Regions from separate parts of the Homo sapiens genome. Here region 1 is linked to region 2. The links come from fine-mapping of genetic effects on gene expression. A gene starts in region 2. The other region holds a variant in brackets. All regions are shown on one strand. Distances are between the middles of the regions. Region 1 has its middle 33 kb from the start of NEK6. Region 2 holds the start of NEK6 (NIMA related kinase 6).

The links. PIP is the estimated chance that this variant, and not a neighbour inherited with it, causes the effect. A credible set is the group of variants that fine-mapping cannot tell apart.
Region 1: its variant is the best candidate, but not a certain one, in a credible set for the expression of NEK6 in monocytes (Fairfax 2014, PIP 0.79).

The regions. Positions count from the first base shown.
Region 1 is chr9:124,222,387-124,227,758 of GRCh38, forward strand. No RefSeq gene overlaps it. Among named protein-coding and RNA genes, the nearest start is that of NEK6, 33 kb to the right of the region's middle. The variant A/C (reference allele first, on the strand shown) is at 3,154.
Region 2 is chr9:124,255,519-124,260,890 of GRCh38, forward strand. It overlaps NEK6 (NIMA related kinase 6), which reads left to right and starts at 2,431. Exons shown (of 10, transcript NM_014397.6): 1 at 2,431-2,567. LOC613206 (a long non-coding RNA gene) reads right to left here. Exons shown (of 2, transcript NR_149024.1): 2 at 3,692-3,976. RefSeq lists silencers at 2,451-2,580, 2,641-3,010 and an enhancer at 3,048-3,993.

The DNA.
Region 1 (5,372 bases), 33 kb before region 2:
AGGATCTGGGTCCCTAGCTTCATCTGTCACTTCAAAGCTTCCTGTCCCTCAGCCAGGGACTGAGGTAAATTCTAGGCGTTCTGGGCTCTCACTTTCCTCATGTTTGCATGTTCTTTGTGACGCGGTATCCAAGTCGCTGCACAGGTAGGAGGAGCCTGAGGGCTCATCCAGTCCAACCTCCTCCTATGCAGTTCAGATGGGAAAACTGAGGTTCAGAATAGAGACTTGCTGGAAGCATGAAAGTAATTGACAGGTTGGTAGGGGCACAGGGGGTGAAGCGTGTGACAAGCTGGGCCAAAGCTCCAGGGACACGGGTCCTACACTGGCACTTGCGTGGACATCCATGTTACCTGCACTCATGTGTAGTAAAGAGGTCATGCGTGTTTACAAACCATAGTACCACCACAGAGACCACAGGCCCAGCAAATGGGGCTCACACAGGCATGCACACACACACACGTATCCTTGATGGTAAACATGCCCACCCACCATTGTGCACACATGCGTGTATTTACACCCACATGCACACTCATCGGCACACAATCAGAGCCACACACCTGCACGTGCCCCCACAGAATCACACGTGTGTGCAGTCTCACCTATCTGCACTCTGCCATGGGCCCCATTACATACATGCATGCAAACAGATAACACACACGCCTATCAATAGCCAGGATGACTCACACACGAGGACACACATCATACCCTCACAGACTCGTGCATGGACCACCCTGCAGTCACAAAGCAGCATCCAGCATCCGACAATCTGCTGATGTCACTCCCCTGAGAGTAACCATGGCTCCATGCATAGGCAGAGGCAACTCAGCTCACAGGTGCCGCCTGTCCACATGCAGACACAGACACACACACACATACACACACACACACTCTGACAGTTCCCCAATGGCCAGCCTCCTCCACTGACTCCCCACAGCCAGGTGCTCTGACACCCTCCTTGGTGGGACCCTCTCTCTTCAAGGCGCCCAGAGCCACCTGGCTGTCCTTGGAACTAAGTGAGCACCCTGCCCACCCCCAGCCTTGTCCCCTAAACTGGGTGGTTTAGGTCTGAGGGGTGGGGAGAAGGCTGCCCAGAGTCCAAAGTTCAGGGGCCAACATCTTGTTTGCAGGCGCTGGTGGAAATTGCACAACCTGCCAGCTGGGTGACTTGGGCTTATTGTCTCTGAGTTCCCCTTGGCTGCAGGCCCAAGCCCAGCCAGTGACCTGTTTCTCTGGAAGAGGGTGGGGAAAGTGGTTCCTCCCTCCCCTGCCTGGGGAACTGGTGGCCCTCCCTGGGCACTGGTGGCTGGTCCCCAGCTATGTGTGCAACACACCTGACACTGAGATGCACAGAACTCAGCATCCAACCTGTCCTTTCCCAGATAGGAAACTGAAGCTCAGGGAAGGAAAGGCTTGCCCAGGGTCACCCAGCAAGGAGGCCCAGGAGGACTGGAACTCAGGCTCAGTTTCCTTTCTTTTCTTTTCTTTTTTTTTGTGATGGAGTCTCACTCTGTGGCCCAGGCTCGAGTGCAGTGGCGTGATCTTAGCTCACTGCAACCTCTACCTCCTGGGTTCAAGCGATTCTCCTGCCTCAGCTTCCTGAGTAGCTGGGATTATAGGCACGTGCCACCACACCCAGCTAATTTTTTCATATTTTTAGTAGAGGCAGGGTTTCACCATGTTAGCCGGTCTGGTCTCAAACTCCTGACCTCAGGTGATCTGCCCGCCTCGGCCCCTCAAAGTGCTGGGATTACAGGTGTGAGCTACCGCGCCCAGCTCAGTTTTCTTTCAAACCCTTTATCAAAAGAAATATAATCCAAAGCCAGACAGTACTAATGCAAATGAGCAGAGCTACCGTGGGTGCAAAAGGAAGGGACCCCAGAGCCCGTGAGTAGAGACCACTTTCCCTTTCCACACCTACCGTGGCTAAGTCAGTTAGTCAAAGGGTCACTGTGCCATATCACCAGATCATTGAGCTTAACAAATCTATCCCGACTTAAAACATTTTATTTATTTATTTATTTTTGAGACAGGGCCTTGCTCTTGTCACCCAGGCTGGAATGCAGTGGTGCAATCTCAACTCACTGCAGCCTCAACTTCCCGGACTCCACCCATCCTCCTGCCTCAGTCTCCCAGGTAGCCGGGACCACAGGCATGCACCACCACACCCGGCTAATTTTTGTATGTTTTGTAGAGATGGGGTTTCGCCATGTTGCCCAGGCTGGTCTCAAACCCCTGGTCTCAAGCGATCTGCTCACCTTGGCCTCCTGAAGTGCTAGGACTACAGGCATGAGCCACCCCAGTGAGCTTTTTTTCATTTTGTTTTAATTTGTAAAAGTTCCCACTGTGTGCATGAAATGAATTAGCAAGGCCATCATGGCTACGGGGGGTCAGGATCTGGGGCCTTCAGATCCCTCTCACCTCTGGGACCTGCAGCCCAGACTGGGCTTAGATCTCTATTCTGTTCCCCTCCAGTGGCAGCATCAGGGACATGGGGTAGAGACAAACTGAACATTCCTGAAAATCCAAGAAATCTTCTAAAGCTTTAAAAACCCATCCCATGCCTGCCTGTCTTTTCCCTCTCCCCTTCGCTGCCTTTCTGTATCTCTCCCTTCTTTCCTTTCTTCCTCCTGCCTGCCTACCTTTCTCAGTGCATCCAGTCAAAATCATGAGGCTCGAGGATGACAGTCACAGTGGCCCTTGTGAGGCTGGACCTGGGCGGCAGCCTGCTGCAATCAAAGATGGGTATGCACCGGGGCAGAGCAGAGGTATAGCTTAGCATGGACAAGAGGATTCAGGTTTCTCCTTGATGAGGCAGGGAGGCACAGATGCAGAAAGGAGGAAACCAGCTGGGTGCGGTGGCTCACGCGAGTAATCTCAGCACTTTGGGAGGCGGAGGCAGGCGGACCACCTGAGGTCAGGAGTTCAAGACCAGCCTGGCCAACATGGTGAAACACCGTCTCTACTAAAAAATACAAAAATTAGCCAGACATGGTGGTGTGCACCTGTAGTCCCAGCTACACAGGAGGCTGAGGAAGAAGAATTGCTTGAACCCGGGAGGCAGAGGTTGCAGTGAGCCGAGATTGTGACACTGTACTCCAGCCTAGGCAACAAGAGTGAGACTCTGTCTCAAAAAAAACAAAACAACAACAACAA[A/C]AAAAAAGCCAGGTGCAATGGCTCACACCTGTAATCCAAGCACTTTGGGAAGCCGAGGCGGGCGGATCACTTGACGTCAGGAGTTCAAGACCAGCCTGTCCAGCGTGGTGAAACCTGATCTCTACTAAAAAATACAAAAATTAGCCATGCGTGGTGGCGTGTGCCTATAATCCCAGATACTCAGGAGGCTGAGGCAGGAGAATCACTTGAACCCAGGAGGCAGAGGTTACAGTAAGTCGAGATCACACCACTGCACTCCAGCCTGGGTGACAGAGTAAGAATCCGTCTCAGAAAAAAAAAAAAAGGAGGAAACTGAAGAAGCCCATAGTGTTGGGCTGGAGTTGGAGCTCTCAGTGAGAACACATGGTGAGAATCTGTGTTTATGTGGAGAGAGAGAGAATATAGACAGAAAGGTGTGTCTATATATATACATGTATATGCACCTGCATGCATATGTGTATACATATATGCATATTTGATGTGTGTGTGTGTGTGTGTATTTTCAGCTCTGTTCACCAAGAAGGTATGGGAGCAGCAATGCTCTGGTAGCAATGAACATACCCAGTGCCAAGATCTTGTTTTCAAAATGCCATTTGGAGGAAGGCTGAGTCCTGGCTGGGAGAGAGGAAGAACAAGATGAACCTGGAACACCTTGTTGTGGCAAAAAGTCACTAAGCATTCAAAGCATAGTGTGGACATGTCAAAGGGACACAGGGGCCAGCTGGATGGGGCCACACCAAATCTGGTGTAATTGAAAAATCAAAATTAATAATGATAGCAATGAATGATAACCCACTGAATAAAATAGAAACCCCTGACTCCAACTGCTATAAACAAAAAAACGAATAAGTAACCGGACAGAAGAGAAAGCTTTTCCTGACAGTAGAATGTCAAATCATACAGAAAGAAGGAAAACCACCTTTGTCAAATATGATCATAATTATTATTTCAGGTAAGAAACATCGATGGAACCAGGTTAAAACTAGGGATGTAAATGGAGTGAAGAACAGGATATTAGCTTAGCACTGGAGCCCGGGAGTTCCAGTTCAGCCTGGGCAATATAGCTTGAGCCTATCTCTAAATAAATAAATAGACAGAAAATGAACAATTCTAGGAAAAACAGAAAGCTGCACAAGAGAATAAATGCAATCACAGTACTCTACATTGCTGGGCTATCAACACTGTTCACATGGCCACAAAATAAACCCCCAATATTTATCTAACCAAAAATTATGAGATGAGATGATCATATAAGGAAGATGGTACCAGGGGAAGTAGGGGCAGCGTGGTATGGGAAGCAAATTCTAATCTTCCAAAGTAAGAAGAGAGTAGATTATACATAAAACTGAAAGTCCAGAAATAACGGTATAGACATGTGATAACAGTGGAAGCATAAAGGCAAATAAAAAAGAAACTTGTTTCTTGTTAAAAAGCAGTTACCTCTGATGGTTGGGAACTGGGAGCAAAGATGGATTAGACAGGAGACAGCTGTTTTTCATTGTTAAGTCTTGCAGAACAAAATGCATGTAAAATTTTTTGAAAGTGAAATCAAAATATAAAAATATAATTAAAAGAAATACATGTTTAGGCCAGGCACAGTGGCTCATGCCTGTAATCCCAGCACTTTGGGGGGCCGAGGTGGGTGGATCACTTGCGGTCAGGAGTTCGAGACCAGCCTGGCCAACACGGTGAAACCCCATATCTACCAAAAATACAAAAATTAGCCGTGCGTGGGGGCACACTCCTATAGTCCCAGCTACTCAGGAGGCTGAGGCAGGAGAATCACTTGAGCCCAGGAGGCAGACGTTGCAGTGAGCCGAGATCATGCCACTGCACCCCAGCCGGTGGGGCAGAACAAGACTCAGTCTCAAAAAAAAAAAGAGAAATACATTTTGAGATAAGCAGTAAATTTGGATAATTGGTTGAGTTGACCATTTAACAAAATCTTCAAAGGATCCTTCAGATGCTAAAGTTCTGATAAGACAGAAAATTACTTTTTTTCAGAGGTTTTTAAAAACAATCAGTCTAAAAGCTAAAGTTCCCATGTGATACTGTGAAAAACATATTCATAGGATATTATTTAAGAAGAATAGACTGGGTACAGTGGCTCATGCCTATAATCCCAGCACTTTGGGAGCCTGAGGTGGGCGGATCCCGAGGTCAAGAGATTGAGACTATCCTGGCTAACATGGTAAAACCCTGTCTCTACTAAAAATACA
Region 2 (5,372 bases):
CCTTTCCTCCCAGTGGCCTGGTGCGGCTCTCAAAGTTTCCTTCAAAAGGGAGTTTCTGGTTCTTGCTCTGTAGCTTAACTGAATAGCTGCCAGAACATGGGACCTGCCCTCCACACAGTGGGCCCCTACTGACTTCTCCCACTCCCTCATTCAGGCCTCTGCTCAGATGTCACCTCATCAGAAAGGCCTTCTTCCAGCACCCCCTATAAAAAAGCACCCCTGGGTCCTCCTACCCTTCCGAGTTATTTCTCCACCAAACTTCTTTTTTTTTTTTTTTTGGAGACAGAGTCTCGCTCTGTCACTGAGGCTGGAGTGTAGTGGCGCGATCTCGGCTCACTGCAAACTTCGCCTCCCGGGTTCACGCCATTCTCCTGCCTCAGCCTCCCAAGTAGCTGGGACTACAGGCGCCTGCCACCATGCCCGGCTATTTTTTTGTATTTTTAGTAGAGACAGGGTTTCACCGTGTTATCCAGGATGGTCTCGATCTCCTGACCTTGTGATCCGCCTGCGTCGGCCTCCCAAAGTGCTGGGATTACAGGCGTGAGCCACCGCGCCCGGCCCAAACTTCTTATCCTTGAAATGGCAGATATTCAGTGTCTTCCTCCCACCCCATCCCTCCCCCTTGACTGAAGCCCCAAGAAAGGGCCATATTTTGTTCACTCCTTTATCCCAGTGCCTAGAAAAGTACCTGGCCCATGGAAGGTGCTCATAGATGTGTCGGGTGAACCAATGACTGAACTAATGTTTGCTGCATGAATATGGCCAGTATCACAAATCCTCTAGTAACACTGCAATACGCTGTCTCAGAACTTCGATTTCTTTCTATTATTTGTTGCAGTGTTTATTTCTTCTATTTAACTTTTCAATCTGTCTGACATTTATTGTGGTGTATATCATGGGAGGCAAGGCTGTAAACAGATCTCCAGCTAAACGGCTAAACAATTTGCAGAACAATCCATTTCCTCCCCATTGGTTTGTGATGTCTGCATTTTCATCCACAAGAGCTGGGACCAGGCCCGCTCCTGTGGGCCAGCTGCTGCCTCGTCTGCCCTCTTGTTCCAGAAGCCCAGGGCTATGCTGTTCCTGAGGCAGGGCTGCCTAGTGATTGGCCACACAGGCACTGGAATTAGACAATCTGCCGTGCACTTTCCAGCTCAACCACTTACCATCTGGGTGACTTTGAACAAAAGAATTTGCTTTTTATTGTTGTTGTCCAGGTTGGAGTGCAGTGGTGCGATCATAGCTCACTGCAGCTGCTAACTCCTATGCTCAAGAGACCCTCCCGCCTCAGCGTCCCGAGTAGCTGGGACTGCAGGCAGGCACTACCACACCCAGCTAATTCTTACATTTTTCTGTAGACATGGGGTTTTGCTATATTGCCCAGGCTGGCCTCAAACTCCCAGCCTCAAGGCATCCTCCCACCTCAGCCTCCCATAGTACTGGGATTACAGGTGTGAGCCACCGCACCCAGCCTGAAATTTCATTTCTAAGCCTCAAAGCCCATCTGTAAAATGGGCACAAGGGTAACGTTGGCACACGTGGTGGACGCTCCGTTGGTGTCATTATTACAGATCACGGCCAGTTGAAGCACTTCCACTCATTTGGCAAACAGAAGCCAGACGGGCATTCACCCTGTGCCCAGTACAGTGCTGCGCCCAAGCAGGCAGTCAGTGTCCCTGGCTCCAGCCCTCCTGGGGTGCAGCACAGTTTTGAATGTGGAGGGGAGGCAGCAGGGGTGGAAACAGCCCAGCCAGGAGCGGCCGCTCTCGGTGCGGGGAGGAGGTGAAGTGAGAACTGAGCTGCTTGGGTCTCAGGGAGGCTCTGACTTCTAGAGGGGGCGTTCAACATTCTTTAGTGGGGACTTTTACTACTTCCAGAAACCTCTGCACATTGGCTCTTGCTGGTCCCCCGGGGGCCACAGGAAGTGGGAGCTCCAGATGAAGAGTCGCTGGCACTTTGAGGGCAGGGGGCAGGGCCTTCCCCTCATCGGAATACTCTTGGAGCCTACTTCAGTGCCTGCATTCAGCTGGTGCACAATAAGTGCTTGTTACTGTGCCAATTTCAGTATGACTAGGGCTGTGGTAGGAGCAATGCTAGGCGATGGGGAATCCGAAGACGCACAGGAGTCCAAGGGTTGGCTGACTGCAGACCCTCATCATAAGTCTAGAGCCGGAGAAGATGGGGAGACGCCGGCCTGCGCCCTGTGAGTCTGGGCCTCAGTCTTCCCATCTCTGAAATGGGGAAGGGGTTCCTCGGCCGAGCGGATCGGCCGCAGAACTCGGCGGAGTCGAGGGGTCCAGGCCCAGGAAGGACGCCGCCGGGGCGCCCCCCGCCCCTCAAGCTTGCGTGGCGGCAGCGCGCACGAGCGCTGGGGGCGGCGCGGCCCCGCGGCGGGGAGGGGCGGGCGCGCGGGCGCGCGGGCCCGCGCAGGCGGTGGCGGCGGCGGCGGAACCGAGCTGACGGGCGTGCGGCCGCTGCGCCGCAAACTCGTGTGGGACGCACCGCTCCAGCCGCCCGCGGGCCAGCGCACCGGTCCCCCAGCGGCAGCCGAGCCCGCCCGCGCGCCGGTGAGTCGCCTGGGGCTGGGGCCGGGCCGGTGGGGCCCCGCGGCCCGGAGAAGGGCGGGGGCCGGGCGGCGGGGCCGTCACCCCCAGCCGGGCCGAGGGCGGGCGCGCGCCCACGGCTCCGCGGGGGAGAGCGGGAGGCGGGCGCGAGTGTGGCCGCGCGGGGCTGAGCGTGTCGGCGGCCGGGCGGGCGGGGGCGGCGTGTCCGCGTGTCCCGGGGTGTGCGCGTCCCCGGCGGGTGTGCGTGTGCACCCCGGAGCGTCTGGTGGCGTTGTTGGGGTGAGTGCGTGCGGGGACGCGGGCATGGCTCCCCGCTACCCACTTCCCGAGTGGGGACGACGGGCGGAGGAGTGTGCCGGGCGCCGCAGGGAGTACGTGCGGGTCTCAGGGAGTGTGTGTGTGCACGTGTGTGCATTCCAAAGTGATTTGTGTGCAAGCACATGCGTGAGCCTAGAAGGGCGAAAGTATGCCTGTGTGGGTGTGAGTATAACGAGTGTGCAGGGCCGTGCGAGCGTGTTTATTACTGAGGTTGAGGGGCCGGCCCCCTTTGCGCCCACCAGGCCTTTGCACAGTGATGGCCCCCGAGCCAGGGAGCCCGTGGAGAGAGAAGCGGCCTGGCATGGGCTGGGGGTCGGGGCTGGGCCTGATCCGGTGAACCAGGGGCCAGGAGGGCAGACTCAGAGCCTGGCTGGGCCTGACAGAGGCAAAGGTCTTAGAGCCAGGCTGCGGCAGGGCCACTGGCAGGACCCTCTCTGCATACACAGGCTGGGCGAGCGGAGGCTGTGGTGGGCCCCTCGGCCGGGCACCCGAGGACGTGTGTTTTCCTAAATATCCTCCAGGCTCTCCTGTCTTTGTTCTTGTCTCTCTCCAGCCAGGCCTGGGGGGCTGACCCTAGACTTGCCTGTGTATGTGGGGGCCTCTCTGCCTGCCCTGCTAAGTAGACGGATCTTTTGATTTATTTATACCTCTCCTAGGCTCCAAGTGTGAATCCCAGGACAGTAACAAATTGATCACAGCGGGCTTGGGACACCAGCTTCCGAGGTCTGTCCTTGCAGTTTTGACTGACAGGCTTTTGTGTGTGTGCGTGCTCTCTAACTGTTGAAAATCTTTGCAGCTGAAAGTCTTAATTGCTTTAAGGCAAACTTTAGAAATTCCAGAGCTCCCTAGTTGGTCTGACTTTTCCAAATTCAGCTTGCCTTTTTTGGGGGAAAATGTCGCCTTAGTTTGGTGTACAGTACGTGCAGGCAGGTCTTGGAGGCACGTTTAAAAACCCTGTCGTTAATGGAAGAAGAATTTCATTGAAAGGGACGCAGAGCCGTCTGGAAGCGCCTGCCCCGGACTCAGCGAGTTTGGACTCAGCGAGTTTGAGCTTACCGAATGAACTTTGGACGTCTTCTTTTAGCAAACAAAACCTGGAAGGAAGCAAAAAAGACCCACATTCTTTTTCTTTTTTCTCCTGAAAATGAAAAAAAGAAAACACCTTCTGGGTTTGCTGGAAATGCCCCCTCTCCTTCCCCCATCAAGGCCAAGCCCTCGCTGCGTCCCCCACCCCCAAATAAAATATGCCTGTGGGGAGCCGTGGAATGAGTCACTCCCTGGCAGAGAGCCTGACGGGCAAACATTTGGGAAGGTTCTTGCCTAACTTCCCAGAAGAAAAGGCCCAGGATTTAAAATGGTCCCTGTGGTTTGTCAGCCTCTGCTGTCCCGTCTGCTTCGGAAATGACTAAAAAGTAGTTTGTATCTCCACAAAATAAAGTCTCAGACTGAAGGCCTTAGACCCAGGTTGGTCTGGATTTAGAGCTGTTTGGGTTTCCAGAAATGGAGCGCCTGGCTTTAACTGGTGGCATTTCTGGTGGGTTTGAACAAGGGCAGAGGAGGGAAATGGGGAGGAAGTTCCCTTTTGCGGAGCAGAAGGGGCTGTGTGCTGGGAGCCGTTCTAGGGGGTGTGAATCTCCCGTTGGTCTTCTGTGACAGAAAATGCTTTTGGTTTTGTGCACAAGGAAACTGAGGCACACGGGGGTCAAGCCTGTGTCCTGGGGCAGCTGAGAGGAGGTGGGGGCAGAATCCGAAGTCACCTGCCCAGCCTCACAGCCTTTCCTCTTTCCATTGCACTTGGGATATGGTATTTGACTGGCTAAGGTGCACAGACCTAGTGCTGAGTACTTTAGCACACATCCGTTCATTTTCTGCTCATCGTAGATAGGGTTTATTATCCCCATTTCACAAATGATAAAACTGAGGTTCAGAGACATGACTTGCATAATTTCATTAAAGTAGCACCACGATAGATGGTCCCCATTTATTTTTATTTATTTATTTATTTATTTTTGAGACAGAGTCTCACTCTGTTGCCCAGGCTGGAGTACAGTGGCGCAATCTCAGCTCCCTGCACCCTCTGCCTCCTGGGTTCAAGTGAGCCTCCTGCCTCAGCCTCCTCCTGAGTAGCTGGGATTATAGGCAGGTGCCACCACGCCCAGATAATTTTTGTATTTTTAGTAGAGATGGGGTTTCACTGTGTTGGCCAGCCAGGCTGGTCTCGAACTCCTGACCTCAGGTGATCCGCCCGCCTTGGCCTCCCAAAGTGCTGGAATTACAGGCATGAGCCACCATGCCCGGCCATGTCCCCATTTACTGAGGATATACTGTGTGCTAGGTCTGGTGCTGTATTTTACCCAGTCCACTCACCAACACTAAGATGGAAGCTGTCACGATGCCCATTTACAGATGAGGAAACTGGGGCACAGAGAGATGAGAGAATGCGCCAAAGACCATGTGCTAATACGCAGCAGAGCTGGATTTGAACCCAGG